Regions from separate parts of the Homo sapiens genome. Here regions 2, 3, 4 and 5 are each linked to region 1. The links come from fine-mapping of genetic effects on plasma protein levels. A gene starts in region 1. Each other region holds a variant in brackets. All regions are shown on one strand. Distances are between the middles of the regions. Region 1 holds the start of VWC2 (von Willebrand factor C domain containing 2). Region 2 has its middle 27 kb from the start of VWC2. Region 3 has its middle 55 kb from the start of VWC2. Region 4 has its middle 62 kb from the start of VWC2. Region 5 has its middle 69 kb from the start of VWC2.

What was found. PIP is the posterior inclusion probability: the model's chance that the variant is causal. The UK Biobank Pharma Proteomics Project read protein levels with antibody pairs (Olink). The fine-mapping took linkage between variants from a reference panel, not from the people measured, so its PIPs are less certain.
Region 2: its variant is fine-mapped to the plasma level of the VWC2 protein (UK Biobank, PIP above 0.99).
Region 3: its variant is fine-mapped to the plasma level of the VWC2 protein (UK Biobank, PIP above 0.99).
Region 4: its variant is fine-mapped to the plasma level of the VWC2 protein (UK Biobank, PIP above 0.99).
Region 5: its variant is fine-mapped to the plasma level of the VWC2 protein (UK Biobank, PIP above 0.99).

Annotation. Positions count from the first base shown.
Region 1 is chr7:49,770,846-49,777,403 of GRCh38, forward strand. It overlaps VWC2 (von Willebrand factor C domain containing 2), which reads left to right and starts at 2,793. Exons shown (of 4, transcript NM_198570.5): 1 at 2,793-3,268; 2 at 4,488-5,286. The coding sequence starts at 4,591.
Region 2 is chr7:49,743,025-49,749,582 of GRCh38, forward strand. No RefSeq gene overlaps it. Among named protein-coding and RNA genes, the nearest start is that of VWC2, 27 kb to the right of the region's middle. The variant G/A (reference allele first, on the strand shown) is at 3,316.
Region 3 is chr7:49,715,251-49,721,808 of GRCh38, forward strand. No RefSeq gene overlaps it. Among named protein-coding and RNA genes, the nearest start is that of VWC2, 55 kb to the right of the region's middle. The variant C/A (reference allele first, on the strand shown) is at 2,912.
Region 4 is chr7:49,709,001-49,715,057 of GRCh38, forward strand. No RefSeq gene overlaps it. Among named protein-coding and RNA genes, the nearest start is that of VWC2, 62 kb to the right of the region's middle. The variant A/G (reference allele first, on the strand shown) is at 2,575.
Region 5 is chr7:49,701,660-49,708,217 of GRCh38, forward strand. No RefSeq gene overlaps it. Among named protein-coding and RNA genes, the nearest start is that of VWC2, 69 kb to the right of the region's middle. The variant G/C (reference allele first, on the strand shown) is at 3,878.

The sequences.
Region 1 (6,558 bases):
GGGGAGGGGGAGGGGAGGGAAGTGAAGGGAAGGGAAGGGAAAAAGGGGGGATGGGAAGAGAAGGGAAAGGAAAGCAAGGAAAAGGAAAATAAGTGGAAAGGAAGAAAGGAAAGAGGGAGGGAGGGAATAAAGGAAAGAAGGAAAGAAATGAGGGAGAGAAAGAGGAAAAGGAGAGAGACGGAGGAGGGAGGGAGAAAGGGGAGAAGGAGGGCAAAGGGAAGGAAGGAAGGAAAGAAAGGAACAAAGAAGGAAGGAAAGAAGAAAAGTTAATCGCAACAATTCATTGCACTGGCAATAAATAAATTGTATATTCCTTCAACGCCTGCAAAGTCCCCTATATTTTCTCGAATTACTCAGCTCATCAAGCTGCATGGGTATTGCTCTTCTTCACAAAGGACAGCAATCCCTTGGAAACTGCTTTCCTCCCTCATTCTATCAGGCCTGTAACACTATCTCTGAGAATATCTAACAGAACAAAGCCATTTGGACACTTGGTCACTTAATTCATCCTCAGTTTTGTCAGGCCTCTTCTTGAAAACTTGGCTATCTCATATTCATGGCTCTCTACTGGAAGCAGCTGGCTGGGACAAGAAGTTTCTGATTCAGAGAGACCGGTGATTGAGGTGGGATTAATAAAGGGACATCATTATTTCCTCAGCTGAGCCCCCAATCAATTTTTCAGTTAGAATCCTGGACACATAATGTTACTGTTTCGTTCTTATTAGTCACATGTGTTTGGGGCTACCCCATCGTAACCACATGAGAGTACTGTTGGCAAAACAAAACAAACAGGATGTTTAATGACAAGAACAGAATTAGCTAATAAGTCAAATAACAAAATTTGTAGCCTAACCAATGCTATAAAAGCACTTGATTTTATAGAACCGAGGGCCCATTTTGCACATTACATATGATCACACCTCGAGCCGTGTTTTTATTTTGGTGGTGTTGTGAAAGGTGTGATATTTGGATTAGAGCATCATAAAGACACAGAAGCCATAACTGATTAGAGCATGTGATGAGAGGCAGGTGGGTGGGTAGGCAGCTGCAGCCACAGCAAATGTGGCCTGTCTCTTTTCTGAGGGTAACAAGAAACGAAAGGGCCGAGTGTGGTGGCTCACACCTGTAATCCCAGCACTTTGAGAGGCCGGGTGGATCATTTGAGGCCAGGAGTTCAAGACAAGCCTGGGCAACAAAGCAAGATCCCATCTCTACCAAAAAAAAAAAACAAAAAAAAAACAAAAGAAAAAACCTAAACGAAACAAAACAAAACAAACAAACAAAAAATTAGCCCTGTGTGGTGACCTGTACACCCAGCTCCTCCGGAGTCTGAGGCAGGAGTTTGAGGCTGCAGTGGGCCGTGATCATGCCACTGCACTGAAGCCTGGGTGACAAAGTGAGATCGTGTCTCTAAAACATTAAAAAAAAAAAAAAAAGGAAAAATGAGAGTGAGAACTGAAACAGCAGAAGGGCTCAAATCATCCTGTACATAGAAATCCTCCATCCAGGCCAGGCGCGGTGGCTCACCAGCATTTTGGGAGACCGAGGCAGGAGGATCACGAGGTCCGGAGATCGAGACCATCATGTCCAACATGGTGAAACCCCGTCTCACTAAAAATACAAAAACAAAATTAGCTGGGGGTGATGGCGGACGACTGTAGTCCCAGCTACTCAGGAGGCTGAGGCGGCAGAAAGGCATGAACCCGGGAATCGAGCTTGCAGTAAGTGGAGATCGCGCCACTGCGCTCCAGGCTAGGCCACAGAGCGAGACTCCGTCTGAAAAAAAAAAAAAAGAGAGAGAGAGAGAGAAAGAAATCCTCCATCCAGCCCTGTTGGTTGTGTATGTGTTGGAGGGGGTGGAGGGGCAGCCTTCTCAGGCTTTCAAGGAGGGCTCCCTAGCACCTCAGCTAAGATTTGTTTGTCTATACTATTAAAAGATAGACATAACTGTGTCCCAAACCAGCCTCCCCAGTTCCCACCAGCCAGAGCGCCTGACCTTGCAGGGAAGCTTATCTGTTTACCGTCCGAGCACTTTCAGGGATTCTAAAATGCCGTGAGTGGGAACCACTGCCATGGGCCATTTCCATGAAAATTCAATTTCGGGGATTAATTTGAACAGGTACTATTGACGTTTTCTCGTTTACACAAGATCAAAGAGTAAAAACAACCGGGCCTCTGCTTAACAGTTGAGGATTCTAGCAAAGTTAGGAAACAGGTTTCTATTTGTAGTAGAAGAGAGAGCAGGCAGAAAGAGGAAGATGGGAGCGGGGAGAGATTGGCAGAGATTCAGAAAGTTCGCGCTTGAGATTTTTACGTTTCTTACTCGTAAACGTCTATTTCTCTGGGTTTCTGAATGCAAAGACGAGAAAGTCTCAACAGTCTGCTAAACTAACACGGCCTTCGAATCCCAATCTGAACACAGTAGCTGAAACAAGCTGTCCACAAAGAGGAAAGCCAGAGGGGGCCAATTAGGAAGGAAGAAATTAAAGAAAAGAGAAAAGCCAAGATGAAAGGTCCAGCGCAAAGTGAATGACTCGACTGGAGAATGGCAGCCCTGGCAGGGTCTGCGGCCGGCTGCGGAGGTGGGGACGCGGCCGCGCGGACGAGTGACAGGTTGGTCCGGCGCAGCAAAGGGAGCGGGTGCGGCGGTAGGGCCTCTCCGGGGGCAGCGCGAGGGCCTCCCCCGGGGCAGCGCGGGCCAAGGCGGGGCCTCCAGAGCGGGGGCAGCAGAGGAGGGAGCGGAACGGGAGCCGGGCGGAGGCGGCTGCGGCAGGGGGAGGCGGGAGGCGGGCGCGCTAGCTCCCATGCTGGCCTCGGTGCCACTCGCGCGCCGGCCGCGCTCCGGGCTTCTCTTTTCCCTCCGACGCGCCACGGCTGCCCAGACATTCCGGCTGCCGGGTCTGGAGAGCTCCCCGAACCCCTCCGCGGAGAGGAGCGAGGCGGCGCCAGGGTGGCCCCCGGGGCGCGCTTGGTCTCGGAGAAGCGGGGACGAGGCCGGAGGATGAGCGACTGAGGGCGACGCGGGCACTGACGCGAGTTGGGGCCGCGACTACCGGCAGCTGACAGCGCGATGAGCGACTCCCCAGAGACGCCCTAGCCCGGTGTGCGCGCCAGGCGGAGCGCGCAGGTGGGGCTGGGCTGTTAGTGGTCCGCCCCACGCGGGTCGCCGGCCGGCCCAGGATGGGCGCTGGCAACCCGGGCCCGCGCCCGCCGCTGCTACCCCTGCGCCCGCTGCGAGCCCGGCGTCCGGCCCGCGCCCTGCGCTCATGTATGTAGGTTTGGCGCCGGTCTTCAGGGCTGAGGGTGCATGCTGGGTGTCCCCGCGCGGCCGGACGCGCTCCAGCTGGGTTCAGCCGCTCAGCTGCTCCGGAGGAACCCCCTCCCCCGCCCAAGTTTGTGAATATGGGCGCTTCGCCCAGTGTTGAGGTCGGCAGGGACCGGGCAGGGGGTCAGCAGGGCCGGGCACGTCCGGAGCCCTCAGGGAGGAGGGCTGAGGGGGAGGGGACAGACGCACCGGAGTGCGCAGAGTGGGGGCGTTCGGGGAGTGAGGCGGAGAGAGGCTGGATTGCCGGTGTCCTGCGGCGTCTCGGGCTCTCCCAGCCCCTTTGGGCGGCAGAAACTTTGGAATCCAGAAAGGCTGGCCGGGATCCAGCGAGTAGGAGGGTCTCGCGCCCACTCTGCGCCCTGGGGCCCCAGCCTCCCGCACTGCACACCTTGGTGCTGCCCGGGCGCTTCTGCTCCGCAGCCAGGACACTACAAGACTGAGCGCTGCGGCCGGCGACCTGGCTCCCAAGGCTCGGAGGGGCGGGCCGGCAGAGGAGCTGAAGCCCCGGGAATCCCCGACCCGGCCCTCTGGCAAGGGGCCGAGGGCATCCTTTCATGCAGCGGGGCTTAGAGAGCGGGGAGGGGGCGTCTGCTCCCGAGACGGGAGTCTTTTAAGAAGTTGTTAGAAATGAATCGTGGAGTCCTAGGAGAAGCTTTGTTTAACCTCCCCGCATTTTCCCAGCACAACCCCCTAAAGCAAATGAGGAAGAGTTTCCCTCTTATCTTCCTGTACATTCGTCCGTCTCTAACTCCACTGCTGAATTCTCCATTTAATAACCTTCGGGAAATGTGGCCAGGACCTAGGGAGGGACACCCTGGGTGCCTGAATTACGTGGTTCAAGGCAGAGCTTTGCAGGGGGGCGCGGGCCTGGCTCGCTGCGTTCCCTGGGCTCCGCAAGCCGCCCTTGGCCATCTCCAACACTAATCACGACTACATCAGAAACACGCCGGCCGGTGTCGTTCTTGGATTTCGCTTCCAATGTATCGCTCCACAGTTTGTGATGTCTAAGAACCCCGGCCGTGCACCGACGCTGGGCATGCTGCCCCCGCCCCCGTCGCCCAGCTCGTTAATCTAGAGCTATGCCGGAGCCCGGGTGGGGGCCGCGGCGGGCCGGGGCGCGCGCGGGCCGCGGGGCTCAGTTGTGCTGCTGTTCTCTCCGCAGGGACGGCGGCTCCCGGCTGGCGGCGGCGCGCCCCCGGGCTGTGAATGCGACTCGCCCCTCGGCCGCGCTCCCCGCCCGCCCGCCCGCCGGGACGTGGTAGGGGATGCCCAGCTCCACTGCGATGGCAGTTGGCGCGCTCTCCAGTTCCCTCCTGGTCACCTGCTGCCTGATGGTGGCTCTGTGCAGTCCGAGCATCCCGCTGGAGAAGCTGGCCCAGGCACCAGAGCAGCCGGGCCAGGAGAAGCGTGAGCACGCCTCTCGGGACGGCCCGGGGCGGGTGAACGAGCTCGGGCGCCCGGCGAGGGACGAGGGCGGCAGCGGCCGGGACTGGAAGAGCAAGAGCGGCCGTGGGCTCGCCGGCCGTGAGCCGTGGAGCAAGCTGAAGCAGGCCTGGGTCTCCCAGGGCGGGGGCGCCAAGGCCGGGGATCTGCAGGTCCGGCCCCGCGGGGACACCCCGCAGGCGGAAGCCCTGGCCGCAGCCGCCCAGGACGCGATTGGCCCGGAACTCGCGCCCACGCCCGAGCCACCCGAGGAGTACGTGTACCCGGACTACCGTGGCAAGGGCTGCGTGGACGAGAGCGGCTTCGTGTACGCGATCGGGGAGAAGTTCGCGCCGGGCCCCTCGGCCTGCCCGTGCCTGTGCACCGAGGAGGGGCCGCTGTGCGCGCAGCCCGAGTGCCCGAGGCTGCACCCGCGCTGCATCCACGTCGACACGAGCCAGTGCTGCCCGCAGTGCAAGGAGAGGAAGAACTACTGCGAGTTCCGGGGCAAGACCTATCAGACTTTGGAGGAGTTCGTGGTAAGATGCGAACGCCCGCCGGGCGACTTTGCACCTTCCAGGAAGGGGTGGAACAGCTTTGGTTCTGTGGTCCCCCACTTTGAAGAAGAGGTGCTCTCTGGTTCTGAGAGGTGGAGAGCACTGTGCTCACGTCCCTTTGACATGACCTCTCTTTTTCAGGGCAGAGGTAATCCTTCCCAGAGCACTGTGGCCAATCCATAGGGATTCCTTCGGTGTTCACTTTAAAAGGGCTTCATGAGGATGAAGCCTATGGCACTGAAGGGAAGGATCCCAACAGGTATCGGAGGGACTTTCAACATTAATGTACTGCTCCTAATTTGGGAATGTTGTCGGTGAAATTCTTAACCTGCTTTCAAACACAGGGTAATTTACGGTACCATTTGGGATATATTCTTCAACTAATAGCTAATTAAGGGAGACTATTCATATAAAAAGCCATTTCCCTAGATTATGTGTTTAGGGTATCATGCAAATGTTCTAAAAATTAAAAGAAAAAGAAAATATTTGCTCACTGGGTGCCAAATCATAGTGGATGGTGAAACCAACAAGTGCAGTTAATGGTTAAAAATTGTTTTGTTTCAGATGAGTAGTAGTAATGTTAATAATACCGGCCATCTCTCTAATGCCTACTGTGCGTCAGGATCCCGCTGGTTTTCATGTACGTTAGTTAAATCTCATCCCATGCTAGGAGGTGGATTATTATCCATTGTCTCCATGTTATGGAGAAGAGGAAACAGACACAGAATATTTAAATAATGTGTTGAAGGCAGAACAGCTATTAAGAAACAGATTCATATGTCAAACTAAGCAGTTCTACTCCATAGCTTAGGTTTTTAACCCTTATACTCTACTTGAACCAAAAGCCCAGCTCCACTGGGGCTTTAGTTTGGGTGAAGGTGCTGCACAGCATGCATGCACAGGCTCTAGGTAAAATCTCTGCCAGTGGGCTAGGGGCCTGAGAGAGACCTGCACAGGTGTTCAGTTATTCCAAACACCTCAAGGTAGGTTCAACCTATGGCCTGCCTGGACTTAGCCCATTGACTTACCAGGCCATAGCTGTCCTTTTCCCACCTGCAGAGGGCGTTATGGAACGTGCAGCTACTAAAGCAAAGGTTTAGGGAGGAATTCTGCTGGAATACCCCTCCTGGAATTAGCCTGTGAGATCTGCTAATTCCCAGGATGTGAAGCCCATGTAATTACTGACTTGTGGCAATGAATTATCAAGTGTTATATAAGTACAAAGCCAGGAAGGACAGATCTATATATAGTGTA
Region 2 (6,558 bases), 28 kb before region 1:
AAAAACCTAGAGTAGAGGCTGAAAAAATCTTGGGCCCAGACTAGTAGAAACCCCCCTAACACAGTGGAAGAAAAATCACAGAGAAACCAGGGACTAAGCATTGCCTAATATGAAGGCTAGGCCAGGATAGAAGAAAGCACCTCTGTCCATGTCCCACCAGGCTAGCAAGCAACAAGTCACAAATAAGAGGATTCCAAAGCCAGGAGAGTGAAGTACAAAACACATAACAAAAACTGGTCCTCTCTAAGATGTAGGCATACATTGAAAGATGAAAGCTGGTGGTAGATCAGGATTATGAAGAAAAATCCCCTGGCAACCTAGCCCCCACCCTAAACTCAAAGTAATATAGAGAAATCAAACAGTCCGGGGTGAACTGAGGGTAATCATAGTAACAATAAACCCCAAACCCAGCTCAATTCCTGACTACATAGACTAAATGCCTCATACTAAAAGCCTAGCAAAACAGAAGGCATGCTCAGTTTGTGCCACAAATACTATTTACTTCCATCTCTTCTGTCCCACATAGGATGCCTAGCTTTCAACCAAAAATTAAGAGACACATAGAGAAGCAAAAAAATAAGATAAATTCCTAAAAAGAGAAAATAAAGGGAAACATATATGACCCAGAAGTAGAAATGATCAAAGAAATAAAGTAACTACTATAATAGGTCAAAAGATTGCATGGAAAGGGTAGACACATGCGTGGACGGATGGGGAATTTTAGAAGACACATGGAAACTACCAAAAAGAATTAACCAGAAATGCCAGAAATAAACCTTAACATTGAAGCAAAAATGAAAAATACATGGATTCAACAGGCACATCTGTAAAATTGACAGGGTAAAGACTCAGTAAAACTGAAGATACTTCAAAAGAAATTATCCAAACTGAAATACAAAGAGAATAAAACAGGGGGAAAAAATAATACAGACTAGAGTATTCAAGAGGTAAGGAACAATATCAAGCTATCATGTATGTGTATATGATTGGAGTCATAAAAGAGAGAGAAAGAGAATGGGGCAAAAGACATATTTAAAGGGATAATAATTGAGAATTGTCAAAAAGCATAAGAGACACAAAATCACATATGACAGAAGCTCAGAAAATATTAAACAAGATAAACACAAATAAGTAAACAAACAAAACACTCCTAAATAAGTGATATACAAACTGGCATAAACTAAAGATAACGAGAATATCTTGACGGCAGACTTATCATCAGAACGTTTAAAGTGAGAGAACATGAAATGATATTATTAAAGTGCTAATTGCAAAAACAATGAACCTAGAATTCTACACCTAGTGAAAATCTTTCTAAAAAAATATGAAAGAGTTTTTCAGACAACCAAAAGCTTAGGAAATCCATTAACAGCTGACTTGCACTCCAAGAAATGGTAAAATAAATTATTCAGAACAAAAGAATAGAATATCATATAGAAACTTGGATCTAAACAAAGAAATAAAGAGTGCAAGAAGTGATATAAATGGTGGTAAATACTCAATCTTTTTTTAAATTTTTAATTGTTCTAAAATGTAATTACTTGTGTAAAACCGCTAGAGTAAAAATGCATTGTGTGTTATAGTATATGTAAATATAGAGTATACAGAAAGATATCAGAAAAACTGGGAGAAAGAAATGGGGAATTCAGTTGGGAGCTCTTTACACTATAGGAAATTATATAATATTTGATGATTGGATATAGTTAATTCAAAATGTATATCCTAAACCCTGGAGAAATAACTAAAAATCATTTTTTAAAAGCACTAAATGATAACCCAGTAGTAGAAGCAAAAGAGCATCATTGAAAATATACTGAATTAAGGCAAAGAGTAAAAGTACAAAATGATAAAGTGAAGAGATGTAACAAATTTTAAAATAATTAGCAAAATAAATCATAATTCAACTATATCAAAACTATATAGAATATAAGTGGTCTAAATATTCCATTTAAAAGACAGAGACCATAAAAGCAGATGAAATAATAAAACCTAAATATATTATATATAAAAAACACTCACTTTTAAATCTAAATATATAAATGAATTAAAAGTTTAAAGATATAAAAAGATTACTATATAAATCAAAAGAAAGCTAAAGCACCTATACAAATTATCAGAGAAAATAGACATTGAAACAAGTAGCATTGCCAGAGATCAGGAGGGTCATTGCATAATTTTCCTCCTAACAGTGGTGCTTCAATGTACATGAACTGAAAAAATAGATAAAGAAATCCACAGTTGCAGTTACAGACTTTAATACTCCTTTCTTAGTAACTAGTAAAACAAATAGACAGAAAATACATGAATATATAGATGACTTGAACAACAGTATCAACCAATTTTATCTACTTGATGAATTAGAAGCACAGAACACTTCCAACAACAGCAAATACATATTTTTTAAGTGCACATGAAATGATCACCAGAATAGAATTTATTCTTGGCCAAAAAACAACCTTTAACAAATACAAAATATTAAAATTATACTAACAATGTTCTTGGACCATAGTAAGAAAAAAGTAGAAATGAACAGAAAAATATATACATAGGAATATCCAAATATTTGAAAAATACTTTTACATAACCCATAGCACAAAGAAGCAGTTACACAAGATAATAGGAAATACCTTAAGTTTAATGAAAACAAAATCACAACGCATTGAAATTTGTGGGATACAAAACCAGTGCTTAAAGAAAAATTGATAGCATCAAATGTTTATATCACAAAAGAAGAAAAGTAAATCAGTTCTCTAACTTTTCACTTTGAAAAACTGGAAAATGAATAACAAATCAAATCCAAAGCAGACAGGAGGAAGAAAAATAAAGATAAGCACAGAAATCAATTACACTGAAATAGAAAAGCAATGGAGAAAAATCAATAAAACAAAAAACTGATTCTTTAATAAACTAAAATTGTAAAACCTCTAATCAGAGTGCCCACCTAAAAAGTAGGGAAGAAAAAAATTATAAACATCAGGAACAGGTAGTGACATCACTACAGACTACACACATTAGACTAATAATAAAACTATAAATGCCACACTCATGAATTCAACTGTTTAAATGAAATTAAATATTTTTAAAGGAACCGACTGCCATACTCTGTCAAGAACAAATAGATAACCTGAATTTCTTTATATCTATTTAAATTAATTAATTAATAATTAACAGACTTCCAGCAAAGGAACTCCAGAAACAAATGCCTTTACTGTCCCATTCTAACACATATTTAAGAACAAAATACAGTCATGTGTTGCTTAATGATGGGGGACACTGTTCTGAAAAATGTGTCAGTAGACAATTTCATCATTTCGT[G/A]AACATCATAGAATGCACATATAAATCTAGAAGGTATAGCTTACTACACAGTTAGGCTATAGGATATGGCCTATTGCTTCTAGGTTATAAACCTGTACAGCATTTTACTGTATGGAATACTATAGGCAAGTGTAACACAATGGTAAGTATTTATGTTTCCAAACATACCTAAACATAGAGAAGGAACAGTAAAGATAATGTTTAAAATATAAAATATATAAATATTTAAATATTTAAATATAAAATATAAAAAATATATTAAAAATATATAAAATTTATATATATCATATATATAAATATATACAAAATTTTATATATATTTATATATTATATATGTATATATAATATATATAAAATAACTTATATATATTATATATAAATGTATAGAATTTTATATATATTTTATAAAAATATATATATAATTTATAAAAATTTATATCAAATATAAAAATATATAAATATAAAATATAAAAAATGGTACACCTATATAGGGCACTTACTATGAATGGATTTTACAGGACTGAAGGTTGCTCTGGGTGAGCCAGTGACTGAGTGGTGAATGAATGTGAAGGCCTGGGACATTACAGTTTATTGCTGTAGACCTCACAGACAATGTACACCTAGGCTATTCTGAATGTATAACATATTTTTCTTTCTTCAATAATAAATTAATTTTAGCTTACCTTAACTTTTTTACTTTATAAACTTTTTAACTTTAAACTTTGTGCCTCTTTTATAATAACAGCTCAAAACACATTGCACAGCTATATAAAAATATCTTCTTCTTTCTTTATATCCTTATTCTGCAAGCTTTTTCTATTTTTTAATTTTTTCTAACTTTTTTGTTAACTAAGACACTGTGTTAGGCCATTCTTGCATTGTTATAAAGAAATATCTGAGGCTGGGTAATTTATAAGAAAAGAGGTTTAATTGGCTTATGGTTCTGCAGGCTGTACAGGAAGCATAGTGGCATCTACCTCCAAGGAGGCCTCAGGAAGCTTTTACTCATGGCTGAAGCAGGCACATTACATAAGGAGAATGGGAGCAAGTGTAAGGTGGGAGTAGGCACCATGCACTTGTAAACAGCCAGATCTCAGAAGTCACTCACTATTACCAGGACAGCACCAAGAGGATGGCACTAAACCATTCATAAGAAACCCGCCTCCATGATCCAAGCACCTCCCACCAGGCCCCACCTCCAGCACTGAAGATGACAATTCAACATGACATTTACATGAGATTTAGGCGGGGGCAAATATACAAACTCTATCAGAAACAAACACACTCATTAGTCTAGGCCTACACAGAGTCAGGAGCATCAGTATCACATCTTCCACCTCCACATCTTGTCTCACTGGAAGCCCTTCAGGGGCAATGACAGGCAGGGAGCTGTCATCTATGAAAACAATGCCTACTTCTGGATGCCTCCTGAAGGACCTGATTAGGCTGTTTTTTTATAAGTAGAAGGAGTAAACTGTAAAATAATGATTAAAAGTGTTGTATAGTAAATGCATAAACCAGTTAACATAGTCATTTATTATGATTATCAAGTATTAGGTAATTTACTTAATGGTATTTGGTATACTTTTATACAACTGGCAGTGCAGTAGGTTTGCTTACATCAGTATCACTACAAACACATGAGTAATGCTACATTATGAGGGCTATGATGCCACTAGACGATAGGAATTTGTCAGCTCCATTATAATCTTATGGGGACACCATAGTGTATACGACAGTCCATCATTGACCAGTATGTCCTTATGTGGTGGATGACTATCATACCGAATCTATGCAAACTCATTCAAAGTATGAAAGACAATGGATACTATAAGAAAACCACAGAACAATAGCATTTGTGCACATAGATGCATAAATCCTCAAAAATTCTTACAAATAAAATCCAGCAATATGTAAAAATGCTAATATGTCATGATCAAGTATGTTTGGCTGGCTCGAAATCTGAAAGTCAGTCAATGTAATTCATCTTATTAATAGACTAAAGAAGAGAAAATGGATCATCTCATGGATACAGATAGAACACCCGATTAAATTAAACATATATTCATGATAAAAATGCAAAGCAAATTAAAAATTGAAGAGAACTTCTCCAGTCTGAAAAGGGACTCTAGGCCAGGCGCGGTGGCTCACGCCTGTAATCCCAGCACTTTGGGAGGCTGAGGCAGGCGGATCACGAGGTCAGAAGATCGAGACTATCCTAGCTAACATGGTGAAACCCCGTCTCTACTAAAAATAGAAAAAATTAGCCGGGCATGGTGGCGGACACCTGCAGTCCCAGCTACTTGGGAGGCTGAGGCAGGAGAATGGCATGCACCTGGGAGGTGGAGCTTGCAGTGAGCTGAGATGGTGCCACTGCACTCCAGCCTGGGTGACAGAGCAAGACCCTGTCTCAAAAAAAAAAAAAAAGAAAGAAAGAAAGAAAGAAAGAAAGAAAGAAAGAAAGAAAGAAAGAAAGAAAGAAAGAAAAGAAAAGGGACTCTAAAAAACAAACCGCTACAACAGAATACTTATGGAGGAAAGGCTGCCCAGTTTTGCCCTTAGTTCAGTCAAAAGGCAAGATGTTCATTCTAACAACTTTTGCATTCCAGGTCTTAAAGTAACTTGAAATTAGAGAGGTTCCCCAAATGCCCTCTTCTTCACCACCTCCCTCTTTCATCTACCATCCTCCATCAAGGGCATATAAGCAAAGAAGGACACCAGAAGGACCTGTGGCCTCCAGCGGGTGACAGGAGGATTATGGGACAGAGGAGCAGGTGAATCACCCCATCAGGCTGCAATTTTGCATCTTGGGCCCACTGAGAGGGTTGTGGCTTTGATTCTGTCAACTGGAGTATTACTGTAATGGGTAAAACATGTTGATTACTATAGTGCACTGGATGGAATGTGATTCTTTAAGAGTGTTGAGTCTGGAAATTCGGGAAGGCCTATTACTAGTGTTGTTGGAAGAGAAAGTGGGAAAAGCCACTGCAAGGTGAAAGGCTTTCACGGACAACTCAGTAACGAATAGCTGTCTGATCATGATGCCTGTGGGACCGGGGATAAGTCACCGCAATCTCCTGTGTTAATGTCCTCATCTGTGCAATCGGCATTTAAACCAAGGGAGGCACTGTTGCTTTAATATGCCACATCAATAGGCTGAATAAGAATAATTACAGGAATTTAAAAGTATGAGAAGAAACAGGTGAGCATTTAGCTCCTAATTTAAAATTTAAAAGGGCATCA
Region 3 (6,558 bases), 56 kb before region 1:
GGAACATGTATCTCTTCTGAGCTTCCTTTTTTTTATTTTTTATTTTTTTGCTTTTAAGAGAAAAATACTAATACCTACATAATAAGGAAGTTGTGGGTTCTAAAGAAAGAGTATAGTAGGCATCATGCCTTTCAATATGTGGGAACCATGAATATTACTATTGTGTGGCACCACCTTGTTAAAGTGGGCACACAGTTGCGACACATCGAAGGCTTCTCCACATAGGCATGAGCCACTATCAATCCTTTTGAAAACACAACAATCAGGAAGAAAATTGGATTGTTTCTTAAGAATCAGTGACTCAAGGAATAGGTTTTTAAAAAGCTACAGCGTTTTCTCCTTGTTCAGTTTGTATATAGCTCTGCACTGTGAAGACTGAAAGTTATTACTACCTCATGACCTGCAATAAAGAAGCTGGGAGCCCTGATCAGTGCTGTGGAGACATGTTTCTAGCCCAGTCAGATGAATGTTCTTAATTGCCATCCATCTTCACATACCCTGAGACAGGTTAAGAAGCCGCTGACTGTATGATGTGAGATCCCTGGCTTCTTCTTGCAGGGCATTGAGGAAGAAGGAGGGGAGAAAGAAGGGAGAGGCCACACATCTACTTTTCTGCTTCACCCCCTTCTTGTAATAGAGTAGATTAAGCATCTCCATCCAGAACATCATCAGTTTAGGTAAACATAAACTTGGCATTAGATTCGTATTATGCTTAAGAAGAGTCCATGCTAATAAATGCAGCTCACATCTGGCAAAGATTTTGTCACATACATTTTCATGCTGTGTATGCTATAACCTTTTATATTCCTTCCAAAATTAAAGCCTAAAACACCTAATCATCCATTAAGCATAAAGAAGCAGAATCAGTGTATTTGGATGTAATTTGGATGTAATTTCTTAAGCACAAGAGTCTTATATTTCTCCCAAGCTCTTGCATTAAATGTTAAGGCAAATCTTCTAGTTGTATATGCTTTAAAACTATGTGGGAAAAATATGTCAAATTTTTAAACTACATTGGAGAAAAACACAATATGTTGTTCAGATTTGTCCTAAAAAAGTATTATGGATGTGAATATTTGGGCAATATGTTTATCATTTTTTCAAGTGGACAAAAGCCAGGATGATTAGCAAATTTATTGAATGCCAGCATCTCAACCGACCTAAGAAGCAGTGACAAAGATAGCAGAATGAAAACTAACAAGGATAAAATTTCCTCCACTAGTTTGGTAGGTGCGGAGAACTAGTTGTTTTTTTTTTTTTTCTTCCTTGTACCTATTTGAAAAAACTATTTTTAAGTTTCTCACACCTAGACCTACAATAAAGGACACAAGAAAGGGATTAGATACAGGCAACCCTGGGCCAGGACCACTGGAGGCTGCCCATGTGGCACATTGCTAGAGGGCTTTAGGGTAGCAGGCCAAGGGGATCTAACGCATGCATAGTGTGTCCAAGATATGTTCAACAGGAAGTCAAGGAATGTGCCAGGAGCCTGCAGGTAGAGCAGTAAGATAGTCACAAAACTTTAGGAGGCTGAGGCAGGTGGATCACTTGAGGTCAGGAGTTCGAGACCAGCCTGACCAACATAGTGAAACCCCGTCTCTACTAAAAATACAAAAAACTAGCCAGGTGTGGTGGTGGGTGCCTGTAATCCCAGCTACTTGGGAGGCTGAGGCAGGAGAATCACTTGAACCTGGGAGGTGGGGGTTGCAGTGAGCTGAGATTGCACCATTGTACTCCAGCCTGGGCAACAAGAACGAAACTCGTCTCAAAAAACAACAACAAAAAAGATAGCCACAAAAGCCTCAATAAACTGTGGTGCCAAAGCTGGAGACAGGAGGAAACTAATGAGAGGGCATCACAGTGAAGCTGTGGCTCAGGGCAGGTGGCAGGTGCAGGTAGGCCTGTAGGAAGGCATGGCAGGCCCAAGGCCACACTTGCAAACACAGCCTCCATAGTACAGTGCCTGTGTATGTGGGCCTTGCACCAAACCAAGGACAAATTCAAAAGATGCTCTGTTCTCCTGAGTGATTACAAGCAAGCCAATTAGTTTGGGAACCATCATCTAATAGAACCATAAAGTCTTCTAGAAAGACACACATTACAAGTGTACCAACTTCAGTCATGGAGATAACATCTCTTTTGGCCTTATTCTATTGGATAAAAGTCCATGCTCAAGAGGAAAATCTAACCAAAGTATGTGAGCCCCAAGAGGCAGGGATCCTTGCGTACTATCTCAGACTTTGACAGCCACACTGGTCTTTCTTAGAAAGAAGTAGGAAAGGAAATGTTAAAACAGTCAAACAAAAACCAAAATTCTAGCTACGTTCTTCTTAACCATTAACTTGTTTCACAGCTATAACTTGTGCTTCATGATTTATGAGGCTAATTTAATCTCTTGCCTGTTTCAAACTTTATTACAAAACTCTCAGGCATAAGAGAGTTTATAATCTTTCCTTTTTCAGGGATGGTGGGTGACGTAAACAGAAACATCAAGACTTTACCCTGGGCCATCAGGGTATGAAAACAGGAGGCTGAGGCACATGCCTGCAATCTCTGGCCAATGCTACTCTGTCTATTCAGTTCATGCTAAAAAAGATCTCTCTACTATTATGACTTAGACCCAGCAATCCCATTACTGGGTATATACCCAAAGGATTATAAATCATGCTACTATAAAGACACATGCACACATATGTTTATTGTGGCACTATTCACAATAGCAAACACTTGGAACGAACCCATATGTCCCTCAATGATAGACTGGATTAAGAATATGTGGCACATATACACCATGGAATACTATGCAGCCATAAAAAGATGAGTTCATGTCCTTTGCAGGGACATGGATCCAGCTGGAAACCATCATTCTGAGCAAACTGTCACAAGGACAGAAAACCAAACACCACATGTT[C/A]TTACTCATAGGTGGGAATTGAACAATGAGATCACTTGGACACAGGGCGGGGAACATCACACACTGGTGCCTGTCAGGAGGTGGGGAGCTGGGGGAGGGATAGCATTAGAAGAAATATGTAAATGATGAGTTGATGGCTGCAGCAAACCAACATGGCACAGGTATACATATGTATCAAATCTGCATGTTGTGCAGATTTATTATAACTTAAAGTATAATAAAATAAACAAATAAATAAAAAAGAATAGCACATACAATTATGTACAGTACATAATACTTGACAATAATAAGCGATTATGTTATAGGTTTATGAAAAAAAAAAGAATAGACTGCCATGGGGGACAGAGGGTTACTCATTACTGGAAGTTTCAAGCAAAGGCAGAACAGCTAGCTGTTTAGGATACTGGAAAAGGATGAAGTGCTTATACTATGTGAATTTTTGATGTCTCATTTCTAATGTAGACAACTGGCAAGCACATTAGCACGGCTGGAACACCTAGTATTTGCTAGACACTATTAGAGATACTTTACCCAGGCGAACGGTGGTGGTGGAGGTTTTAATTAAATAATGACACAATTCAATAGTGCCTCCATTTTACAGGAAAAAGAAAGAAGATTCAGAAAGAAAAAGAAACTTTTCTGAGATTCCATATCTAAAGAATGTCCTGGGATTTAACCAGAGCCGGTCAGGATTTTTATTATATTTCATAGGAGGGTTTGTTTGTTTTGCTTCATTACACAATACTACCTTACAGCCCTCGTACATGAGAAATGATTCCACATGATCAGAATACGAATTTGATTTAGTTTGGCCTTTTTCACGAGTGACTAATCACATCACCCTATGATTCAGAAGGCACAGCAAATGAGGAAACAGTTTCTGTGGAATCATCTCATCCCAGGAGCTGGGCTGGAGGGGAATGAGAAAAAGCAAAAACTATAAAAACAGCTTTGAAGGTGGAAATAAAAAATACACTCCTAAACAGGAATGGTATTTTTTCCTGGCTCCCAAATCTTTTTCAGTCAAGAAAATGGTAACTTGACAGGGGTTGAGATGAGAAATGTGAGAAATAAAGGGAAGCAGGGGTGGGGAGTATGGAAGATTGCCAAAAATCTAGATTCCCCAGAATCAACGAAGTATCTCTACTCAACTCTTCAAATTCCCTGGCTTACCTGAAGACAGAACTTAACTTTCTTAGAAGTATGCTGTTACTATGTTGCTTGGAAAGGCTTTAAAGATTCCCTAAATCTTCCCTATGATGTTTTTGATTTCTGGAGGAATCAAGAATGAAGAGAAAAAATAAAGTAACAAAGGAAAAAAAAAGATCTAAGCTAGACAATAATCTCCTTTTAGCTACTGTCATTAAAAAAATGCCAACCATTAGGAATGAGGAGACTGCAAAGAGGGTGGTCAACAGTTGTGAAGACAGAGGGCACAGAAGGTGAGGCTGGCAGAAGTCAAACTTCAGGAGAGCAGTGGGACAGAACCTCATTTTTGATCTCCAAATTCCAGTCTAGAATTATACATAGTCTTTCAGCCACCTTTTCAGTTGATGTGTGTGACGTGATTTTATGTGTTAGACATTGTTCTAAAGGCTGGTATCAGATTTACAACACTGTTGTCTTCAAGAGACCCAGGACTGAAGAAGAGGGCAGGCTGATTAGCAGACGGACAAACCCAGTGTTCTAAGCAATGCAACAGTGGGGTACTACCTAGGGTGATACAGGAGTAAGGAGAAGGGTCTGAGCTCCTCATGTGGTGGGTCAGGGGTTAAAATAAAGAGTTTGTATTAACCAAGCAATTAATCCCATAATGTTAACCTTCTTAGCCATATTCAGTAAAAACAATTATGTTAATTGGGCCAGAATTACATTTTACATCGAACAAGGGACTAAGTCCCTTAGCTAAGGAAATTGTTTCTGCAGGCATACTGCCTGGGTGGGAATCTCAACTCCAACATTTACTGTCTATGGAACCTTGCACAAACTATTTAAATTCTCTGATCCTCAGTTTTCTCAACAGTGAAAGGGGCATATCAATAGTCTTACCTCATGAAATTTTTATGAAGACAACAAAAGGAACATGTTTATCATGGTACCTGAAATATATCATGCCTTATATGAATGTTGGCAATTATTTTCATTATAAATTAGTGTCTTAGTCTGATTGTGTTTTATAAAGGAATATCTAAGGCTGGGTAATTTATGGAGAAAAGATGTTTCTTTGGCTCACAGTTCTGCAGGCTGTACAAGAAGCATGGTGCCAGCATCTGTGTCAGTGAGGGCCTCAGGCTGCTTCCACTCATGGTAGAAGGTGAAGGGGAGCTGGCATGCTGAGAGATCACATGTCAAGAGAGGAAGCAAGAGAGAGGGAGTGGGGTGAAAGGCCCTATTTAACAACCAGCTCTCACAAGAGCTAACGGACCTGATAGTTGATAACTCATTTTGTGAAGATGGCACCAAGCCATTCATGACAAATCTGTCCCTAAGTCTCCAACACCTACCCTGGAGATCAAATTTCAACATGAGATTTGGAGGGGACAAACATCTGTGCCATAGCTATTAGACACTAAGACTTGAATTTCTTCTCTCCATTGAAGGTTTGTAAGCCTCATAATGTTCTGGATAGAAATCTCCTTCATAGAGTGAATGGATCAAGATGATGGAGGCAGGAGCTCTAGGTTCAGAATATGTTGTCTTTGGAGACGACAGCAGTGCTGGACTTCTTCTGGCTCAATTGCAGAAGATTGATTTTTTTTAAGGACTCATTCCTGGTATAGGTACAAACATTATTTTGGAACTTCTTGGCCTGCTGGGCTACAGATTGAAGAAACTGTACATATTTCTCAGACGAGCCAATAACAGCATTAATATATGTGTGAAAAAACCCAAGTCTTTCATACTATAGTGTCTCTAGAAAAGAAAATAGGCTGAGCAAAAAATGTGTGAATTTTAAGACGTTCAACACCATGAACACTGGATCTGCAGTATCCTTGCATTGCTCATGGTCTAGCAATATTCTTGCATTGCTCATGGTCTAGCAAAACCACTGACACCCATAGCAAGCAATTGCCCATTCTTCCAGCTTCTCACTCTGTTATTTACAATCTTGTTTATAATCTGACCTCACCACCTCAGTCATTATGCTCTATGACACTTTCCTGGTCACTTTCATTGCTTCTGTCCTTAACAGAAGCTTTAGGTGACCCTTCTGTCTACATGTCAGAGTGAACAACCCATCCCATGTCTAGAGGCCTTGGCAAGTGACCTGTCAAGAACAAACCCCTTCTAGACGTGTTCTATTACAGCAAGCAATTCTAAGATTTTCCAAGTGTGTTCATCAGCAAGAATAGCTGCACAATCTATGAGGCCTAGTGCAAAATGAAATTGAAGGTTCTTTTTTCAATACTGCAATAGCTGAGCAGTAAAGCAAGCACGAGCCCTTCCTAGGCCAGGTCCCTGAGCAATTGCCTAGGTTACACACCCATGAACCCAGCCCTGTCAGTTAGGGCCCAACCAGGAAACCAGAAGCCACCTTAAGTACTCGAAATGAAGAGAACTGAATTCAGGGAGTTGGTTACTCAGGTTATGAAAATGCTAAGAAGACTAAGAAACACAGTGAAGCATGCCAGAAATGGGCAATATCA
Region 4 (6,057 bases), 62 kb before region 1:
CCATAGCGTGGCCTTTGGAGCAATGGGCTGGCAGGTCATTCTGGCCACTCTATTGAAGACAGAAAGCACAGGATGAGAGACAGGCAGCCAGGCAGGAGATGATGGCAGGAGAGGTGGGGATGTAGCCTGGGGAAGGCTCTGATACCAACCTGTTAGTGCACTATCTCCTGGAAAACCAGAACCTACACAAATGAGGGAATTGGAAGTCGCTTCTCTTAGTCACTGAAATTTCTCTTTTCAGTGGACCCTAAGAAAAGAAAAGCCATGACAAAGTAAAAAGAATATAAACATGTCAGGTGTATGCTATTAGATGTACAAGTCTAAGGAAGCCAAATACCTTGATTGCCTTACATAGCGAATATTCACTTTTGCAAGTATCTGTAGGGGGATATAATCATTCACTCATTTCTTCACCTGCCCACCTGACAAACAGACCAAAAACCTAGGATCCTTCACTAGTTATTTGTCATTAGGGGACTCCTAGGAAATGAACCCTTTTCTTGTCTGAGGAGCCTCTCATTGTTTGCCCTTGGCAGAGGCAGTTCCCCACCTTTTCCTAAGGAAGCCATCAGAGAGCAGATCATCCCTCCCACATTAAGCAGCCAGGAGATGGGAGGTAACCTGGGCCCAGTCACCATCTCACTCCAGACATAGCCAAGACTATGAACACAGGGGTAGGGGAGTGAGGCAGAGGCCCAGGGCAGGTGGAGATTCTAGGGAGTGGCTGCAGAGCATAAATGGTGTGGTCATGCCAGTGGTGCCATCCCAGCCAGGCACTACCTCAGCTGCCTGACTTCCCGGGTTCTAGTCCTGGCCATTCTCCCAGCCTGGACCACAACACCTCAAGAGGACCCTGAAAACTCCCAATACCTACTGAATACATGTATTTTCTGTTTCAATTTACAACCAAGAACACTGACTACACTACACACCTTTCCATCCTGAACCTGGAGGTGTCTGGGATAGATCTGCCCTGTCGCTCCATTGTGTTCTCTTGATTCCAGCCCTACAATTAATGTCCCGCACTGTCCTGGAGTTTACCCAGTGCCAGACTGGTGGGGTGCTATGAAGCACTCCTAAGTTTCAACAGAACAGAAGGGAAACTGAAAGTTGCCCAATAATTGTTATGATTTTTTTTTTCTATATTTATACCCCATGGCCCAAGTAAGAAAGAGAAAGAAAAATGAACAACCATTTATTTATCTCCTTCTATGTTCAGGGCCTTGTGCATATGTGTGTGTGGGTGTGTGTGTGTGTGTGTGTGTGTGTGTGTATCCCCTTTACATACATTATCTCATCTAATCATTCTCTTTGTAAGAAAAGTATTATTATTTATGTTTACAGAAAAAGAAACTGAGGCTCAGAAAATGTCAGGTGATTTGCAAACAACATAGAATCAAGAATATATGTGCCTAACTTCCAAACCCTACTCTATTTCACCAAGCCACAGTTAAACTAGAGTCAGGGAATTTTAGTAACCTGTGATAAATGCCATTTAACAGCGTATGAAAAAGGCAGGGCAGGATGACAAATGTTGAATTAAGAAGACAAGTGTTTGAATAGACATTTCTCCAAAAGATATACAAATGGCCAATAAGCACCTAAAAAGATATTCATCCTCATTAGACATTGAGATGATGCAAATCAAAGCCTCAATGAGATCGCACCTCATCCCTACTAGAATGACTAAAGTAGATAAACAGAAAAACAAGGGTTAGCAAGGATGTGGACAAACTGGTATTCAATGCTTTGCTAGAAGAAAAATAAAATACTTTTACCGAGTAATGAAAATGTTCTAAAATTAGATTATGGTGATGATTTCACAATTTTGTATCAATAGTATCATACACTTTACACAGGTGAACTTTACAGTGTATAAATTGTATCTAAATAAAGCTGTGCAAAAAAAGGAATGCTATTAATTTAATTGATAATTATACCATCTGACGTATTTCCTACTCAACTCTTTAAAGTTTGTTTTATAACTGACTTTCTTTATAGCTGACCAACCTGAGGTTACAAAGTTAAGTGACTTCCTCAAGGTAACATAGTGAATGAAAAATATTTAATTTTGAGAGGTGACAGCGTGCTGGCAGCCCTCACAGCCCTCGCTCGCTCTAGGTGCCTCCTCTGCCTGGGCTCCCACTTTGATGGCACTTGAGGAGCCCTTCAGCCTGCCGCTGCACTGTGGGAGCCCCTTCCTGGGCTGGCCGCGGCCAGAGCTGGCTCCCTCAGCTTGTGGGTAGGTGTGGAGGGAGAGGTGCTGGCGGGAACCGGGGCTGCGGGTGGGGCTTGCGGGCCAGCATGAGTTCTGGGTGGCTGTGGGCTCCACGGGCCCGCACTTGGAGCGGCCGGCCAGCTCTGCCGGCCCCAGGCAATGAGGGGCTTAGCAACCGGGCCAGTGGCTGCAGAGGGTGTGCTGGGTCCCCCAGCAGTGCTGGCCGACCAGCACTGCGCTAGATGTCTCGCTGGGCCTTAGCTGCCTTCCCGCGGGGCAGGGCTCAGGACCTGCAGCCCACCATGCCTGAGCCTCCCCCACCCTCCGTGGGCTCCTGTGCTGCCCCAGCCTCCCCA[A/G]TGAGTGCCGCCCCCTGCTCCACGGTGCCCAGTCCCATCGACCACCCACCCAAGGGCTGAGGAGTGCGGGTGCACAGCGCGGGACTGGCAGGCAGCTCCACCTGCAGCCCCAGTGTGGGATCCACTGGGTGAAGCCAGCTGGGCTCCTGAGTCTGGTGGGGACTTGGAGAACCTTTATGTCTAGCTAAGGGATTGTAAATACACCAATGGGCACTATGTATCTAGCTCAAGGTTTGTGAACACACCAATCAGCACCCTGTGTCTAGCTCAGGGTTTGTGAATGCACAAATCCACACTGTATCTAGCTACTCTGGTGGGGACTTGGAGAACCTTTGTGTGGACACTCTGTATCTAGCTACTCTGGTGGGGACTTGGAGAACCTTTGTGTGGACACTCTGTATCTAGCTACTGTAGTGGGGATGTGGAGAACCTTTGTGTCCAGCTCAGGGATTGTAAACGCACCAATCAGTGCCCTGTCAAAACAGACCACTCGGCTCTCTGTAAAATGGACCAATCAGCAGGATGAGGGTGGGGCCAGATAAGAGAATAAAAGCAGGCTGCCCGAGCTAGCAGTGGCAACCCCCTCGGATCCCCTTCCGCACTGTGGAAGCTTTGTTCTTTCGCTCTTTGCAAAAAGTCTTGCCGCTGTCACTCTTTGGGTCCACACTGCCTTTATGAGCTGTAACACTCACCGTGAAGGTCTGCAGCTTCACTCCTGAGCCAGCCAGACCACAAACCCACCAGAAGGAAGAAACTCGGAACACATCCGAACATCAGAAGGAACAAACTCCGGACACGCCACCTTTAAGAACTGTAACACTCACCGCGAGGGTTGGCGGCTTCATTCTTGAAGTCAGTGAGACCAAGAACCCAGCACTTGAGACCAAGAACCCACCAATTCCGGACACAATTTGACCTAAGCTGAAGGCAGCAATCCCAGGTGCATCTGTCCCTCCAGTCACAGATAAGTAAGTTCTATCATGTTTCTCAACAAACAAATATTCAAATGAAGGAACCCGATATGTTTAGAAAATTTTATATTTAGTCCCACAATCAGTTTGTGACGAGCATATTATTATTTCCATCTTGTGGTTGAGAAAAGGCTCAGAGGAGATGTTTTTACATTTTTCTCACACAATTAATGAGCAAATTCCCCAGGTGCACTTTTCTTTGGCTTTTAAATGGGGACTCTTTCCTACTGTATACACCATGCTTCCTTCCGCAGAAATTTAAATCCCTAAAACCTATTCGCTTCTGAGATGTCAAAAAGCTATAAAAAATTCAATTGTTTCTTCATAATTTGTACAGAGAAACAGGTACCAAAAGATTGCAAAAATTGTCAGAAGTACTATGTGTATCAATGATGATGCTCATTCAGTTCTCAATCCAGTATTCATGAAAGTGTTTAAATGATACAGCACTACCTAGAACTTACATTTAATTTGGTTTTGTTTAATTCTTGTGAAAGATATTTAATCTTATCTTTTCTTCAGTAGAAATGCAATAAGACAAATGCACTGATGGTATAAAAGCAAAAAAAAAAAAAAAAAAAAAACAGCATTTAAAAATAAATTCAAAGACCTGTCCATACAAGAACAGGTGTTAAATTAGCCACAAGAAAACTCTCATGTTACTTCCCGAATGTAATACTATAGAATTACAGGGAATGCATCATTAAAAAGGGAAAAGCTTTTTAAACTCCTGTTCTCCAGTCTAAATTAATAGCTTCTATGTTTATTGGTTCCCAGAAGGAAACAAGCTGGGTTTGTTTACTCCTGCATATGAATAATCATGTCCATCATGTCCCATTGGAGGAAAACATACAAAAATGATTAATGTTCCTGGTTATAAGAAGTAAACAGAATGCACAGTCAGAGGTAAGGAGGGAGGGAGGCTTGAAATGGAACACAAGTAATGGAATTTGCTCTAGGAAATTTCGATCTGCTGGTAGGGCCCCCCAGGAGACAATAATCCAAGTGCAAAGTTCAATTCAATACAAGAAAGACATAACCCCTACTCTGTGCCAACCAGCATAGAATAAGAAATATATTCCTGCCTTACGGTGTTTAAGGTCTCACACCAATCCCAATGCAGTACAAAGATTTCTACATTTGGAGAGAAAGGATACAGGAAAGTGGAAAACGGAAGAAGTAATTGTCAAGATAAGATGACCTTTACATGGATCTTACGTAAAAACACTTAACATTCGCAAATCTTATTAAGCACGTTAAACTAGAGCAACCAGTGATTTAAATACACATAATCTTCATAAAAACCCTATGAGATATTATTGCCCATATTTTCCAGATAAGAGCACTGAGGTTGGAGCAGTTATGTGCCCGAAGCTTAGGTCTGTGTCTACCGTGAAGGGCCATTTGACACGCAAAGCCAATCCCCTAAGCCCTGTGGTTATCATCTTCTCTGAAAGGAGTAGGGGGACTCAAGGCTCAGGAAAATCACAGCAGGAATGCAGGCTGGCAGGGAAACAACATGAGCTGATGAGGCATGCTCAGGAGCCACCAGCCTGTGGGAGTCACTGCGGAAAAATCACCAGTGGGGAGAGGGGAAGCAAAGGATCAGAAGAGACAAGACCCTGGAAAGTGCTGCAAAGAATTTCTAACAGTCTAAGGTCACTGCATAGCAAACAATCTCAAATGTCACTGGCACACAAAACTCAGTAATTATGTCTTGTTTGCATATTAGTGGATAAGCCAGGATGACTCTCCTCCATGTGTCCTTCAACCTTCATGCAGGACCAGCTGCTACTGCAGAATGTCCTTCCCATGGCAGTGGCAGAAGGATGAGGGAGCTCTCCCAACTGCACAAGCACAAGGGAAGCCCCTGCTTGTGCCAAGTCAGCTGTTAACCCAACGGCCAAATCAAGTCACAAGGCACAGCCCAGTGTCAAGGGGTGAGTGAGTACACTTTGCTTTTGTGGTAGGAATACCGCAGCAAAGAGGCAGAGGGTATGATACAGTGAGGGGTGAAGAACAGGGGCCAATCATCCAACTTACCACAGCATTAAAAGAATTTAACAACAGGTAGCTTCTGGGGAACCACTGACAGCTTTTACTCAGGGGATCAAAACCGTCAGATTAGTTTTGATGGGAGGATAGATTTAGAAGAAGTAAGCTTTTGGGATGCATAGTTAGGGAATAACTTTTTTCCTTTCCTAAAAAAATTTATGAAATAGAAAGTTTCCATTCTGGCTGAGAAGAATAAATAGAATCCATATACTTGACTCAAGCAGATGACTTCTGTGATTTGGTACTGAAGATTTGTCAAACTCCGGGAAATTTGTGAGTCTATAAATGTTCCTGTAGTTTTTACACATGTGTGTTCAAAGAAAAAGAAACCAAAAAGGCACTAGGATCAGATTTCAAACTTGCTCAAAGTTAATCAATATGATTATATCTTTGTAAATGTTTTTTCACTGTAATCAAATGAACAACTGTTTAAATAACCACCTGCCTAATTTTTATT
Region 5 (6,558 bases), 69 kb before region 1:
GGTCTTTAAGTCATTTCAAATGTAGGTAAATTTCCTCTGTTTTACAAATGGACAATTAAATACTGAAAGACTTTTATACTAGTTATAATTCTCAGCTTCATTCTAATTTTTTGTAATTAATTTGTAATTATGTTTTGTACTCAAAACTATGGTCTAATTTATTCATGCTAAATTGGGATGGATTTTTTAAATGTTAAGGGTTTAGTATTACGAATATTTTAACAATAATATAAACTCCACTTAACCAAAGTGCAGTATCATATTAGTGCATCATTCTCTTCTATTGTATATTTTTATTTCAATTTCTTAACCAAAGAGTACAGGTTTTGGAATCTCAGGAACCAGACATAAACCTTAGATTTCTCTAACATAAGAGGGATAAGCAGTAGCTTTGAAACCAGAAACATGGGATTAAATCCAACATGTCGTTTCTTCAGCTGTGTTATTTGTCCTCTCAAAAGCCCGTTTTCCTTGTCTAGAAAATGGCAGCGACATTGCTTTCTTCATGAGATTATTGTGAGGACAAAATGAGGTAATGGTTATAAATCCTCTTGCACTGTGACTGGCACACTAAAAATGCTAAATTACTCTTGGTTCCTTTTCCTTCCCTTTAATCATACATACAAATAACTCAAGTTTATGTAGCTGAACCCCTACAGAATTCAGTCACCATCCATATGTCTCTGTGATCCTTGACTCATGAATAACCCACCAACTGAAATTTCTCAATCCTCCATAATGAGTCCATCTAAATCAAGGATTGTATGTCAAAAATGATAGTACAACAGAAACATGCAATAAAGTTCTTTTTTCCTGGAAAAATGCATTTGACTTTTAGTCCCTAGAGTGAACCCCGCTACAGGTGGAAGTCAGCAGAGTGAATGATTTTCTCACAAGAATTCCCTTGTGTCTTCACTTGGCAAGCACTTTACAGAACACCTGCTGCCCAGATGCTGGGGCTGCAGATGACATGCTATCATCTATTTCCAGAATTAAATCAATATCCAAAATATTCTGTCCCACTGAATGGTTGATGTAAAGGAGTCCACCCAGCTCTAGAATATTCAATGATAGAAGAATACAAAATCCTGGGACTTCTTCCCCCACTGAAGTATTTATCAACTCTGTGCTGCCTTAGGTCTAATGCTTGTGCCTTACAGTCATCCTTAGGAAGGTGTTTATACACCCATGTTTGCACACATGTACAAAGTTCCCAATGCCCACCTGAACCAGTCCCCTAAACAGCTGAATTTCAACTTTCTTTGTTTCTGGTTACGCACATTGAATGTTGGCTGTGAAAGAGCGTGTCCTTCCAGAATATCTAATTTGTAAACCCACCTATTGCAGAAGTAGCATCTACATCTTCCCTTACAGCTGGGCACTGGGCTGTCTGTGAATGGTAACGAGGCAAATGTTTAGTAGAAAAAGCATGGAATTGGCCAGATCTGGGCTCAGTTCCTGCCTTCATCACTTAATCAATGCTTTACATTGGATTCAAAAATTAACTGGTCTGAACTTCAGTTATTTACAAGGGACAGCAAAACCAGCCCCACAGAGTATTCTCACCATTTTCGCTTCCCTTTCACATATAGATCCCGTCTGTTTTTCTGTGACTTCTGCTCGCTGGTCTTTTCCATCCTGGTGACTCTCTCTCCTTACCATTATTTTTCTTCAGATAATCTCTCCTCCTTAGGCCAGCATGACCTAGCATTTCTGTATCACTACAATCTTTTCAATCGGAAGAAACAAAAAAGTAACAACTATCTTAGATCAGAAGGGAGCTTTATCGGCTGAGTGATTGAGCAGTCTGGAGGTCTGCAGGCTTCCTGCCCTGTCTGCTGGAGGCCATAAGAGCTCCAGCTGTTTCCCTGCAATTCCTCCTGCCACCCACATGTGCTGCCTTTGTCCCAAGACAGAGGCTATCAGTAGTAACAGGGCTTCAAGCTTCACATCTGGGGGAAACTATATGTCTCTTCTCATAGCTATTATAAAAACATGTTCAACTTCACTGTGCGTGGATCATCTCAAGACACGAACCCTTCTCCTGACCCATCACTAAGGCTGGGGCCCATATTACCTGATTGGTCTAGGTTAGGTGGCGTCTCTCCTAAATGGCTGGTGGGTCTTCCCACCTAAGAACACGTGACTGGCATACACAGTGACGGGAATGGCATCAATTTGATGAAGGAAAATACAACTTCCTCTATATTCCCTCACCGGTCAAGTCTCCTCTTTCAACATTTCCTGGTTCTATCACTTTTATTCTGATGCTACATCCTTCTCACTCAGTGTCATCCCAGTGGACACCTGGAGAAAGTTCCACGGCAGGTCTGCTGCTAGATGACCAGTGACTGTGCTTCCAGAGAAGGCCACCCATCTGACTGCCCTGTAATGTTTAAAGAATTTGCTTAAGTTGTGGGGGGAAAAAAACCACAAGCCTCTTTATATGCCAGATATGAGTACGAACGACTTCTGACTGGTTCCAAAGTAAACCCATCTACAAAACTAGACTTGCCACTGGTGAGATGACACTGCATTGTAAAAGAGAATACTTAAGGGGAAAAGTCCCATAACAGAGGAAACCTTAATTACACTATGTTTTATTACTCACTTCATTACTTCCTACCAAAAAGGCATTCCAAATGCATAGTATTATGGAATTTACTAATGATTTAATTTAAATGGGTATGTTTTGATATAAAAGGCTCTTTACAGTATGATTATACTTATACAAAATGAATGGCTCACATCTGTAATTCCAGCACTTTGGGAGGCCCAAGGTGGGTGGATTGCTTGAGACCAGAAGTTCAGACTAGCCTGGCTCACATGGTGAAACCCTGTCTACTAAAACTACAAAATTTAGCCAGGCATGGTGGCACACATCTCTAGTTCCAGCTACTTGGGAGGCTGAGGCACAAAAATCGCTTGAGCCTGGGAGGTGGAGGTTGCAATGAGCCAAGGTTGCGCCACCGCACTCCAGCCTGGATGATATATATATAAATAAATAAATAAAATGCCATGTGTGGGTGGTGTAGACAAAGGAACACATAAACAAATTAGAGGTGTTCATCTTTGGAATGGTGGATACATTATTATTAGTGAAGAGGAGAATAAACATGAGCTTTTAGATTATAGCATATCCTGTCAACACATTCCATAGAGAGATTGTCACCTTATAATGAATATTCAGTCTATCAATGTGACTGTTTTATATGAGTAATACCTGTTCTCTTTAGTTGTTTTCTTAAAATAAAATAAAAAATAAAACACCAATACCTAATCCCTCAAATATAGAAGATGGTACCTGTAATATTAGTCCTGACTGTGATTGGTCAATACAGTGTTAGTTATCATCTCACACACTTTTAGAATGTTTTATTTAGCCCTATCAAGCCTGCACTATGTAAATAGTCCCGCAAAAAACTAGCAAACATGCTACATGTACACACAAGATAATGAATTTTAAAACTTCACAAATAAATACAAATACATCTCTATTTGAAAAACTACCATTCTCATCAATGAATAGGGCCCTACCTAACAGAAACACCTACTACAGGATACCCGATAATTGTATTTTCTCCTCAGGAAAAACTGAAGCTAGGAGCATCTTCCTGGCTAAATTCCCAGACATCTGATATTTTAGTTTTATTACAAACCTTGCCCATTTTAATCTGATTCTCTCTTCATGATACATGAGTCTCTTCTTGCAGGGTAAGTTCATCTGAGAGCAGTTCTCTCATTTTAAATTAATCGGCTGCCTTCAATGTTATCCAGATTGAAGTGTTGATTGTGTACTATTTATCTTCTTAATAACAAAAAATTAATCTGCAAAGGAAATATCAAAGGAGATGATCTGCTCTCCACTGTGAGAGAT[G/C]AAGTGGTCTGATGTTCTCACTGAGAGTCATATTTAACTCCTTATATTTATTTCTGGGTGGTCATAATTTTATTTAAATTTGATTGCTTTCTAGACTTTATGTTTTTGACTTTATTCCCAGAACACCCATCAGATTCACTCCAGGTCTCACTAAGACCAGAACAGCCCACAGTCAGGAGTACTGAAAAGCCCCTCCCAGTCTCCACTTTTAATCCAACCCCCAGCATCCTTTTTAGAGCCACAGATGTGACCTCCACACCAAAAGCAAATGTTGCAAAGAGATGCTCAGAGCTACAAAACACTCCTTCCTTCCCCACTGGTCAGTGCAACCCCTTCTTAACAGCCGCTTATTCTCTCATTTCTCACACCAACCACCTGCCCTCCTCCTTTTCTACAGTGTAATATGGGAAGGCATTCTCATTCACAGATGCCAGATAGAGCAAGGGAGCATAGAGCTACCCACATATGGCTAAGAAATTAGATCAGATGTTCAGGATTCTACTTACCAAGAGGTCATGCCTGCATTTCATTGGAGAACAGCAATCTAGGGTTTCTCCTATGTTAGGATAAGAGACATAAAAAAAAAAACTATAAAATTCTGCTCAAAGGAATAAACAAAGATGACAATGGGGTCATGGTAGAAATGTTAACAGAGCCCTAGCACGAAGCCCTGGTCTACATATCATTCCTTAAAAAAATGATTCAGCCATTCAACTAGTGCCTGCCAAGTACTGACACCATGCCAAGTCCTAGGAGCCCGGCAGTGAACCACAATGTCCCAATCCTGCCCTCAGGTGACTTAGAGAACATGATCCATGAGCCCAGCACTAATTCAGACTGTTAGAGAGGGCTTGTTAGACGCCAGACATTGCTCTGACTGATTTGTTAGTTCTTTTAATTCCCACAGAAATATTTTACGGAAGTTATTATTGCTGTCCTTATGTTACAAATGAAAAAAGATATGCGCAGAAAGTCTAAACAATTTGCTTCACAATGCACGGCCAGGAAGTTCTGGAGGCAGGATCTGTGCACAGGCATGAGTGGCCCCAGAATCCATGTTCTTGACCCTGCTATATCAGGGGTCTTTGCCATCCTCCACATTCCTGTTACAGTGCATCCTCACTAAACAAGACACGATCACGTTAGGGCTGAAAGTCAGGGAAGAAATTATCTTATCCAAAACTGTAGGTTTTGTGGAGACTGAAGCCCAGAGAGGGCTGATCACAGAATAGGCACTATGCGTCATGTCCCTATATTTCACACCACTGTCTGCATTAAAAACCAGCTACAGCAAAGGTGGTGTTTCATGCTGATTGAACCCCACAGCCTCTAGATAGTAGAATGAATATGTCTGAAGAGACTTTCTGTATTTTAGAGTTTCTCTGTTTTTCTTTTTCTTTACCTTCTATGTCTCCTAATGCCTTGTCTATGCTCTTGTAGCCTTGGGTCTTGACAAGCGGCCACGACATAGCAGAAAGTATTTTACCAACAAACAATGTCCAAATCTCCTAAATGCAGGGTAATTTCTTCCCCTGTGTCCATCATGGATAAGTAAGTAGCTGGCTTTCTGGAGAACTCAAGAAGATTAGAATGTGCCCCAAGCCTTAGTTACCTCCTGAGTGCAGCTGGGAGCCTCCAACAGTGTGGAGCAGTGGAAGAGGAAAGTGAAGGTAGCATGTGACCCCAGCTCAGACCAAGCCAGAGGTGCACACACAAGGCTCTACTGCAGCAAATGTTGGCTTTGTCATTTCCTTGGCCTGTATGTCCTCACTTTCACTTTACAACTGTGAGTAAAAGTGTGTGATCTCTAGAAGAGTGGACTATCTCCTAACAAGTGCCTGAAACTATAACTTTCATTGTTAGGAAGATTTAATCTGATGTTGGTTACTTAAGTGTTTTCAGTCGGTGAAAATGTATCACTTTTGATCTGTGCACTTTCCTGTATTCCTGATATACCTTATAATATATATGAGATCTGAAATCACACAAACCTAAGCCTAAATTTTCAAGAATTCATTTCTACCTTTGATTCTGGGCAGATGTGCTTATCTGTTCTGGACTCTATTTATAAATAAGAAAAGTAGCAACCCCCAGAGCTCTCCTAGGAAAATAAGAGATTTTCACACATGCAAAAACACCTGGAACACAGCAGCACTTTTTGATAATTCTCATAAGGAAGGAACCTGAGTCTTCTTTACCTTTTTCCCAAATGCCCACAAAGGAAGATCTTAAAAAATGTTTTATTTGAATTACCAATTACATGATGAATTTGCTTATTTTTCTCAAAGAGATAAATCATTTGGTATAAAAATGACAAGAGAAGTTCACTAAGGACAATACTGAATTTGAGAGCACAGATATTCCTCACGCAACGCAGTGGTAGACAAGAGTCACTAACTTAATAGTCTATTCTCCTATTGATGTTGAGCCACAAAGTCCTGCTGAGTTTGTTAACATAGTCCTTCAAGACCTGGCTCTAAATGGGCCTTCTCAGGCCAGCAGACATGGCATGAGACAATGAGTATTTATGTCTGTAATTACCTGATTTGAATAACTAATTGCCCCCTGTTGCTTGTGTGGCTTGGGCTGTGCCAGTTGTCTAGATATGGGGCTGAGAGCCAACAACAGACTAATGCAAACTCCCTCTCTGCAGTTCATTTGCTGAATGGCTTAAATAAATC